Linked DNA regions of Homo sapiens: region 2 is linked to region 1. Evidence: fine-mapped expression QTL. A gene starts in region 1. The other region holds a variant in brackets. All regions are shown on one strand. Distances are from middle to middle.

Evidence for each region. PIP is the estimated chance that this variant, and not a neighbour inherited with it, causes the effect.
Region 2: its variant is the best candidate, but not a certain one, in a credible set for the expression of MYL9 in whole blood (Lepik 2017, PIP 0.71).

The regions. Positions count from the first base shown.
Region 1 is chr20:36,538,271-36,543,634 of GRCh38, forward strand. It overlaps MYL9 (myosin light chain 9), which reads left to right and starts at 3,249. Exons shown (of 4, transcript NM_006097.5): 1 at 3,249-3,291. The region is part of intron 2 of DLGAP4-AS1 (DLGAP4 antisense RNA 1); the gene reads right to left. RefSeq lists a silencer at 3,070-3,269 and enhancers at 4,050-4,703, 4,704-5,357, 5,358-5,364.
Region 2 is chr20:36,563,592-36,568,955 of GRCh38, forward strand. The region is part of intron 2 of DLGAP4-AS1 (DLGAP4 antisense RNA 1); the gene reads right to left. Among named protein-coding and RNA genes, the nearest start is that of DLGAP4-AS1, 7.0 kb to the right of the region's middle. The variant G/A (reference allele first, on the strand shown) is at 2,693.

The DNA of each region.
Region 1 (5,364 bases):
GGCTAATTTTTGTATTTTTCGTAGAGAACAAGATTTCACCATGCTGGCCAGGCTTGTCTCAAATTCCTGGCATCAAGTGATCCACCTGTCTAGGCCTCCCAAAGTGCTAGGATTACAGGCAAGAGCAACCACACCAGGCCCCTTGTACACTGTTGATGGGAATTTAAAATGGTACAGCCACTACAGAAAACAGTTATTGCAGTTCCTCGGAATGTTAAAAATAGAATAACCATTTGATCCAGCAATTCCATTTCTGGGCACATACCCAAAAGAATTGAAAACAGAGACTTATATGTTCACAATGTCAGGTTAAAAAAACAATAGCAGGAACTTGAAGAGACCCATGTTCACTGAAGCATTATTCAGAATAGCCAAAAAGTGGAAGCAACCCAAGTGTCCATCCATGATGAGTAGATAAACAAACTATGCAAACAATGGAATATTATTCAGCCTTAAAAAGGACGAGAGCCTGGGCAACATGGCAAAATCCCACTTCTACAAAAAGAATTTTTTAAAAAATTAGCCGGGGCCAAGCACAGTGGCTCAGGCCTATAATCCCAGCACTTTGGGAGGTCCAGGCAGGACGACTGCTTGAGGCTAGAAGTTTGAGACCAGGCTGGGCAACACAGGGAGACCCTGTTTCTACAAAAGTAGAAAACTTAGCCAGGTGTGGGCCGGGCGCAGTGGCTCACATCTGTAATCCCAGCACTTTGGGAGGCTGAGGCGGGCAGATAATGAGGTCAGGAGATCGAGACCATCCTGACTAACACGGTGAAACCCCGTCTCTACTAAACATACAAAAAAAAAAAATTAGCCGGGCATGGTGGCGGGCGCCTGTAGTCCCAGCTACTCGGAAGGCTGAGGCAGGAGAATGGCATGAACCCGGGAGGCAGAGCTTGCAGTGAGCCGAGATCGCGCCACTGGACTCCAGCCTGGGTGACAGAGCGAGACTCCGTTTCAAAAAAAAAAAAGAAAACTTAGCCGGGTGTGCTGGTGCATGCTTGCAGCCCTAGCTACTTGAGGGGGTCAAAGCAGGGGGATTGCTTGAGCCCAGGAGGTCAAGGCTGCAGTGAGCTATAATTGTGCCACTGCATGCCACCCACGGCGACAGAGTGAGACCCTATCTCAACCCCCCACCCCCAAAAAGAAATTCTGATATACACTAAACATGGATGAACCTGGGGCTTGAGGACATTATGCTGGGTGAAATAAGCCAGTGACAAAAGGTCGAATGCTATATGATTCCACTTACATGAGGCCCCAATAAGTAGATAAACTCACAGAAAACAGAAAGATGAATGATGACTGCCAGGGGCGGGGAGAAGGGGGCAAGGTGGAGTTAGTGTTTAACTGGCAGGGAGTTTCGGCTGAGGAAGATGAAAGTGCTCTGGAGATGGATGGTGGTGATGGTTGCAAAACAAAGTGAATATACTTAATGCCACCAAACTATACACTTAAAAATGCTGAAAATGGCATGAACCTGGGAGGCGGAGCTTGCAGTCAGCTGAGATGGCGCCACTGCACTCCAGCCTGGGCGACAGAGGGAGACTCCATCTCAAAAAAAAAAAAAAAAAAAAAAACACGCTGAAAATGGTAATTTTATGTTATGTATATTTTACCACAATCAAAAAATAAAATGTAAAACTGGGACACTGAAGAAATGTGATGACAAATGATCTTACTTTGGCTCCTAGACCAGAAAAAATTCCTCTAAAGGACATTATTGGGATAACTGGCACAACCTGAATATGGACTGTAAATTAGGTAATTAAATCAATGTGAAAATTGTCCTGACTTTTATCATTGTACTATGCATATTTAAGAGAATCTCCTTTTTAGGAGGTACTCACTGAAACATGTAGAGATAACAGGACATACGTATGCAAGAAACTCTCAAATGGTTGGGGGTAGGAATAAATAAATATAAATGTATGTACATGTATTATATATATGTATATGTATATGGAAAGCAAGAAGAAAATATAATAAAACCCAATGGTAACAAATGGAGAATCTAGATGAAGCTATACAGGGTTCTTTGCACAGTTCTTCTAACTTTATCCTAAGTCTGAAATCATTTCAAAATAAAGTTTTTAAAAATTAATCTGTCCAAAATAGAGTTTCTTATCCCCAAACTGCTCCACACAGCAAACCCATCATAGAAAATGGCAGCTCTTTCTCGTTGCTCACATCAAAACTCTGAGAGTCCACCCTAACTCTTTTCTTTCACACCCATTCCCATGCCCCAGCAGATCCTACCGGCTGCACCTCGGAAATAGTTTTAGCACTTGTCCCTCGGCCTCCCCGCTAGTCCGGATCAGCCTGATCCTTGCTGGGTCGCTCCTCACAGGTCCCCTGCTCGTGGACTCGGCCCCCTCTGCGCTATTTTCAACACATCACCCAGAAGGATTCCGTCAAAACCCAAGCCAGGTCGTCACCCCCTGCTCGGAACCCTCCGACACCCCACATGGCCTACAGGGAGCCACAGAGGGGTCCCTGCTGCTTCTCAGCCCCTCCGGCTCCCGCCCCCATCCTCCTGACCTCCTGCTGCCGGCGACCCCAAGCCCGGGAGCCCTCACGGCGGGGCGCACCCCTGCACCTCCTGTCTGCCCAATGTCACTGCCCAGAGCACCCTGCGGAACAGCCCACGCTCCCCCCAGGTCCCCTTCTCCTTTGAGGCCCCAGGCCGCGGAGCTACTTGTTCATCGTGTTTCCCTCCACGAAACCAGTGCTTCCCGAGTGGTTCCTTCAACCCCGCTCTGGCGGGCGACCGCTGATGTGGACAGAGCGAGTCACCGGGCGTAGGGGTCCCTGGGAGCCCCCCCACCCACCGCCTCTGCCCTCCCCACGTCGAGAGCCGTTGCCCGTCAGGGGAAGCTGCACTCCCACGGCCCATACAAGTGGGAGGCCTCTGGGGAAGCGGCCCTGGACATTCCGTTTGCCTCTCTGGAGGGGAAGGGGTGGCCCAGAGCGAACCCCCACACCCCCTCTCCCATTGCCTGCTCACCCCATCACCTCCCCTCCCTACAAGGCCCTCTGTGCAGCCCGGGCTGGCACAGCAAGGAAGGGGGGCTCACCCCAGAGCGCCCCCGCCTGCCAGCCCGTGGGTCGAGGCCAAATAAGGCCGGACGGCAGCCGAGGGCCCCCGCACCCCGCCCGCGGCCCCGCCCCGCGCACATTCTTCTGCCTTGTAAGGCCCGGCCGCCACGCCCCGCCCCCGCCTGGAGTCCAGACCCGACGGCCGGCCCAGTTCCACGCACCCAGCGAGCCCAAGCGCCTTCTCCGCACCAGGTGGGATCCGGGGCCCCGGGGGTCTTGAGGACAGGCCTAACGGCCCAGGGCTGGAGATGAGAGGTGGCCCGGGCCCGACCCGGCTGTCACGGGGGGCAAAGGCGGGCCCCACGGACTGGGACGTGGTAGGGTCTGTTGGGCACGGACTGAGGGGTGAGCTGGGGCAGCGAGTTTGCTGGGGGCCGACAGGGACTCTGGCCAGGGGCCGGGCAGCAGGAAGGCTGTTCTGGCCTCTGAGAAGCAGTGGTCCTGCGGCAAGGGAAGGCCATCGTCCAGGCCCTGCCCCTTTGCTGAGGAGCTGGAGATGCCAAGCCCAGAGCTCCGGGGGGGGCTGGGGAGCCCGGGTACAAGGGTGCTGGGGAGAGGGTTGCAGTCGTCAGTTCCCCCTGGCCCAGTAAAGGCATGTGTGTCACAGATGGAGAAACAGCCCTGTGGGACTCCACGCCCCCACAGCATCTGTGTCCCCTCCCCATCTCCCATCCCTACACCCTGGGCCAGGGGAAAGGGACCGAGACCAGGGGGCCCTTCCGACACAGCCAGTGCTGTATGCAGGGACCCGGGCCTTCCCCTCTCTGGGTCATCTCGCCTGTGGGTGGGGAAGGTCTGCGGAGGGCCCTGATGGACTCACCCCTAGGGGGCAGGACGAGGACTAGTGGCTGGGAGAACCTGATCCCTGCTCTTCCCAGCCCTCCAGCTGCTCTAAGGAGGAGACTCAGATGAGGTGCACTGAGAAGGAGGCATCTGGCCTGCCCAGCTCCAGGGGCTGGAGGTCATGGGGGCACTGCCCTGTGCTGGCTTCAGCCCAGCCTTTTCTGTTATGGTGGGAATCTGGACACCAGGATGGGGGACATGGCATCCAGTCACATCCAGGCCAAGTATCAGTGCTGACCCCTGGTGTCTAGGGCACCTGAAGGGGGAAGCGATGGCCTCAGAACTAAAGGCCCCACCCATGCCTGCCCCTCGCCCCTCCACCAGTTCTAGAAGGCGCCTCTGGATACACAGAGCCCTTTCCCACTCCACTGCCACAGGCCCGCCTGAGGACTGGGGCTCCCTGTTTTGTTCAAGCCTCGAGGGCACCAGCAGCCAAGTTTGCTCTCCACTGACCCAAACCTAGCCCAGGAATCCTGTCTTCCAGGTGGCCCCTCCCCCTCTCATGGGCACTCCACTCCCCTTCTGGGGCCTCTTTTCCTAGCTGCACCATGGGGGCACCCCTGCCTCCGCTCACCACTTCCCACAATTGCTGGGGTGGACATGGCGGCCTTGTGCAAGCCCTTAAGTACAGTGCTCCCAGCCACACCACAGCAGAGAGTGCAGACCGGGTGGCCATGAAGGCAGAGGGGCCCAGCTGGGCTCAGACCCAGCTGTGGGTGGCCTGGCCATGCCTGCCCTAGAGCTTCATAGAGTGTGGTGGGGACAGTGATGGCCATCACAGCCTCTGTTGGGCACAGTGCACTGCCTCTCTGCATGCAGCCTTCTGTGGGCACCAGGAGTCAAAGTTCCCGAGAACACTGGACTCAGGGAAGGACTAGGCCCCTCTAAAGCACGGGAGAGGAGGGGGCCGGCATCTGGGGACAATGGCACTCCCAACTAGGTCATGGGTGAGAAGGAATTCTGTCTACCTTCCTGAACCATGCAAGAAACACTGAGGGCTGGGTGTGTCGGTCCGTGGGACACGGGCAACCACTGTCTCATGACTACAGGCAGTGATGGCCCTGGGGACCAGCTGGGGCTGGCCGGGATCCCAGTCCAGGGTTGATGATCTCAAAGGCCAAGGACCGAGAATGACTTCAACAGAGTCATGGGAGGAAGGCCTGGAAACAGCTCAAGTTGCAACCACACAGCTTGGGGTGAACAACAGGCAGAGGAGGCTTCCTGGAGGCCCTGGGCCCGGGGGTTTGGGCAGAGGGAAGAGGGGCCGCAGTCCTGGAACCTCAGCCAGGCCCACTGCCCCAGCCGAGGGAAGGAGGCACTGGGTCTTCAGGCGCATATCCCCACAAGCTGTGGCAAGCATTCAGGGAAACAGTCCCAGGCCTGGTCTCAGTTTCCCCATCTGTACAGTAGAAGCAGCAGACT
Region 2 (5,364 bases), 25 kb after region 1:
AGTTTACAACGCATGAACTTTGCTCATGGGGCACATTCAAGCCATAGCAACTACACAGCACCAGGGTAGGCTGTAGGCAAGCAGGCCCCAGAGGCCAAGATGATGGAGAATGGGAACTACTAGGAATCTACAGGCATCTGGCAAAGGGCTGAGGACTTCCTCAGAGTATGGAATAAAATTTCAACTGGTCTTATCAAGATCCAGAGCAGGAAGACCAAGTTGACAAAGATCACTTAGATGAATCCAAAATGAATGAGGATATAGGAGGTGGAGAAATACCAGAGGACACACCTTCAGGGACAGGGCAGTTGGGATGGGCATAAGAGCACAGGCTCAAGAGTCAAGATTGTCTGGGTCTAAGATACTATTTCCTACTAAAGCAGGATATTTTATAATTTTAAAAAGGTCATTCCATCAGAAACAGGTAAAGTTTTAAACATATACGGAAACAGCAGAGCACCAAAATACAGGAAACAAAGGCTGACAGAAATGAAGGGAGGAAACAACTCAACAGTCATAGTTGGACTTCAATTCCCACTTTCAATAACAGATAGAACAAGTAGGCAGAAGATCAATAGGGAAACAGAAGACTTGAACACACGACAACACTACCAACCACCCAGACCTAACACCGATCTACAGAACACTGCACCCTACACCACCTAGACCTAACGCCCGTCCACAGAACACCGCACCCCACGACCACAGAATACAACACTACCCACCACCTAGACCTAACACCCATCTACAGAACACTGCACCCCACAACCACAGAATACAACACTACCCACCACCTAGACCTAACGCCCATCTAAAGAACACTGCACCCTACAACCACAGAATACAACACTACCCACCACCTAGACCTAACGCCCATCTAAACACTGCACCCTACAACCACAGAATACAACACTACCCACCACCTAGACCTAACACCCGTCTACAGAACACTGCACCCTATAACCACAGAATACAACACTACCCACCACCTAGACCTAACGCCCGTCTACAGAACACTGCACCCCACAACCACAGAATACAACACTACCCACCACCTAGACCTAACGCCCATCTAAAGAACACTGCACCCTACAACCACAGAATACAACACTACCCACCACCTAGACCTAACGCCCATCTAAAGAACACTGCACCCTACAACCACAGAATACAACACTACCCACCACCTAGACCTAACACCCGTCTACAGAACACTGCACCCCATAACCACAGAATACAACACTACCCACCACCTAGACCTAACGCCCGTCTACAGAACACTGCACCCCACAACCACAGAATACAACACTACCCACCACCTAGACCTAACACCCGTCTACAGAACACCACACCCTACAACCACAGAATACAACACTACCCACCACATAGACCTAACACCCATCTACAGAACACTGCACCCCACAACCACAGAACACTACCAACCACGTAGACCTAACACCCATCTACAGAACACGGCACCCTACAACCACAGAATACCATTCTTTCTTCTTTTTTCATTTTTTTGAGATGGGATCTTGCTCTGTCAACCAGGCTGGAGTGGAGAAGCGTGATCACAGCTCACCGCAGCCTCAACTTCCCAGGCTCAGGTGATCTCCCACTTCAGCCTCCCAAGTAGCTTGGAGTATAGGCATGCCCCACCCAAGCTAATTTTTTTATTTTTTGTAGAGATGGGGTCTCACTACGTTGTCCAGGTTGGTCTCCAACTCCTGGGCTAAAGGGATCCTCCCACCTGAGCCACCCAAAGTGCCGGGATTACAGGCATAAGCCACCATGCCAGGGCCACATTATTCTTAAGTGGACATGGTACATTCTCCAGGAAAGACCATATGCTAGGTCATAAAACAAACCTCAATTAATTTAAAAGGACTCAAATAATACAAAGTGTGTTCTCTGAGGACACTATAATGAAATTAGAAATTTGGGAAACATGGGAAACTCACAAATATGTGAAATATGTGGAAATTAAACAACATACTCTAAATAATGAATGATTCGAAGAAGAAATCCAAAGGGGAATTAGAAAATATTATGAAATGAATAAAAAGGCTTAAAACTTATGAAATGCAGCTAAAGCAGTGCTTGAAGGAAAATTCATAGCTATCAATGCCTTTTTATTCCTTTGAGACAGTGTCTCGCTTTATTGCCCACACTGGAGTGCAGTCATGCAATCAGGGTTCACTGCAGCCTCACACCCCTGGGCTCAAACAATCCTCCCACCTCAGCCTTTGGAATGGCTGAAACTACAGGCAAAAGCCACCAACACCTGGCTTAATTTTTTATTTTTCGTAGGGATGGGGTCTTGTTACATTGCCCAGGCTGGTCTCAAACCCCTGAGCTCAAGCGACCCGCGTCTCAGCCTCCCAAAGTGCTGGTATGAGCCACCATGCCTGGCCATATGTGCCTATTTTTTTTATTATTTTTTATTTATTAATTTTTTTTTGAGACAAAGTCTTGCTCTGTCACCCAGGCTGGAGTGCAATGGCGCAGGCTGGGCTCACTGCAACCTCTGCCTCTCAGGTTTCAGCGATTCTCCTGCCTCAGCCTCCTGAGTAGCTGGGATTACAGGCATGTGCTACCATGCCCAGCTAATTTTCTATTTTTAGAGGCGAGGTTTCACTATGTTGGCCAGGCTGGTCTTGAACTCCTGACCTCAGGTGATCCGCCCAACCTC[G/A]GCCTCCCAAAATGCTGGGATTACAGGCATGAGCCACCACACCTGGCCCATATGTGCCTATTTAAAAAAAAAATGAAGATTGTAGGCCGGGCACGGTGGCTCACGCCTGTAATCCCAGCACTTTGGGAGGCTGAGGCAGGCGGATCACGAGGTCAGGAGATTGAGACCATCCTGGCTAACACGGTGAAACCCCGTCTCTACTAAAAATACAAAAAATTAGCCAGGTGTGGTGGCGGGTGCCTGTAGTCCCAGCTACTCGGGAGGCTGAGGCAGGAGAATGGCGTGAACCATGGCGGCGGAACTTGCAGTGAGCCTAGATTGCGCCACTGCACTCCAGCCTGGGGGACAGAGCTAGACTCTGTCTCAAAAGAAAAGAAAAAAGTAAATAAATAAATATAGATTGTAAATCAATAATCTAACCTTCCACTTTAAGATACCAGAAAAATTAGAAAAGAAGAGCAAAAGCAGGAGTAAGCAAAAGGAAAGAAACAATAAATGCTGGGGCAGAAATGAATGAAATAGAGAACAGAAAAACAATAGAGAAAATTGATAAAACCAAAAGTTGGTTCTTTGAAAAAAGTCAAAGCAACTGACAAACCCTCAGCTAGACTGACCAAGAAAAAAAGAAAAAAGACTTGAAATTACTAGAGTCAGAAATGGAGACGATAATATTACCATTAACCTTTCAGGAATAAAATCCTACCTCCTCCAATGACCAGTTTTATAACCTCAGGTGTTACTTAGCCCCTCTGTGCCTCCCTTATCTCTATTCTTTAATCCCAACACTTTGGGAGGCCGAGGCAGGTGGATCACTTGAGCTCAGGAGTTCAAGACCAGCTTGGGCAACACAGCGAAACCATGTCTCTACTAAAAATGCAAAAATTAGCTAGGTGTGGTGGCGGGCGCCTGTAATCTCAGCTACTTGGGAGGCTGAGACATGAGAATCACGGGAACCTGAGAGGCGGATGTTGCAGTGAGCAGAGATTGCACCACAGCGAGACTCTGTCTCAGAAAAAGAAAAAAGAAAAAAAAGCAGTGGACTCCTAGATCCTATGAAGGCTGCAACCTAGACCCGACAAGAGATCAGAAATTTATTATCCAAAGAATACAGAAGGTCCTGGACAGATGAACACCAGGCACAGGAGAGGAGAAGACAGCAACAACAGAAGGGTTACACAGAAATTCATGTACTCAGTGTTGAGGATATCCAGACCCTTAGTCTTCCTCCACTCAGCTTGGGAACACTGTCAGCAAGGCACAGAGCCCACTCAGGCCTTCATGCCGCACTAGCTCCCAGGGCCCCAGACCTTCTAGTACAATGGAAAAATGAGACTGTCAAGGCATAGCTCTCATCAAAGAAATTCCAGGCCAGGCACAGTGGCTCACACCTGTAATCCCAACATTTTGGGAGGCCAAGGCAGGCGGATCACCTGAGGTCAGGAATTTGAAACCAGGCTGGGCAACATGGTGGAACGCCATCTCTACTAAAAATACAGAAATTGGCCGGGTGCAGTGGCTCACGCCTGTAATCCCAACACTTCGGGAGGCCGAGGTGGGCAGATCACTTGAGGTCAGGAGTTCGAGACCAGCCTGGCTAACATGGTGAAACCCCATCTCTACTAAAAATACGAAAAATTAGCTGGGCGTGGTAGCCTGCGCCTATAATCCCAGCTACTCGGGAGGCTGAGGCAGGAGAATCGCCTAAACCGGGAGGCAGAGGTTGTGGTGAGTCAAGATCATGCCTCTATACTCCAGCCTGGGCGACAGAGCAAGACTCCGTCTCAAAAAAAAAAAAAAAAAGAAAAAAAAAAGCCTACTGAAGCCTGATAGCTTCCAACTTTTCTTCAGCAGCTTCCTCAGCTCTCTCAGCCTTCAGAGAATTGAAGACAGTTAGGGCTTATGCTCTGGATTAGGCTTTGGTTTAAGGGAACGTTGTCGCTGGTCTGATCATCTATCTAGACCACTCAAATTTTCTCCATATCAGCAATAAGGCTGTTCCCTTTCTTATTACTGTGTTCACTGAAATAGCACCTTTTTCTTTATTTATTTTTGTATTTTTTTTTTCTTTTTAGTACAGATGGGCTTTCACCATGTTGGCCAGGGTGGTCTCGAACTCCTGACCTCAAGTGATCCCACCTGCCTTGGCCTCCCAAAGTGCTCAGGTTACAGGCATGAGCCACTGCGCCTGGCCAATTTTTGAGACAGGGTCTCACTCTTTCACGCAGGCTGGAGTACAGTGGCACAATTATACCTCACCACAGCCTCAACCTCCTGGGCTCAAGCCTTCCTCCACCTCAGCCTCCCAAGTAGCTGGGACTACAGGCATTCGCCACCATGCCCAGCTGATTATTTTTTGTTGAGAGGGGGTCTTGCTATGTTGCTCAGGCTGGCCTCAAACTCCTGGGTTCAAGAGACCTTCCCCTGCCTCGGCCTCCCGAAGTGTTGGGATTACAGGCATGAGCCACCAGACCTAGCCAGATAGTTTTTGTTTGTTTGTTTTGAGACAGAGTCTTGCTCTGTCGCCCAGGCTGGAGTGCAGTGGCGTGATCTCAGTTCACTGCAACCTCTGCCTCCCAGATTCAAGCAATTCTCCCGCCTCAGCCTCCCCAGTAGCTGGGATTACAGGTGTGAGCCACCGCGCCCAGCCAATTGTTCTTGAGTGAAATTAAAAG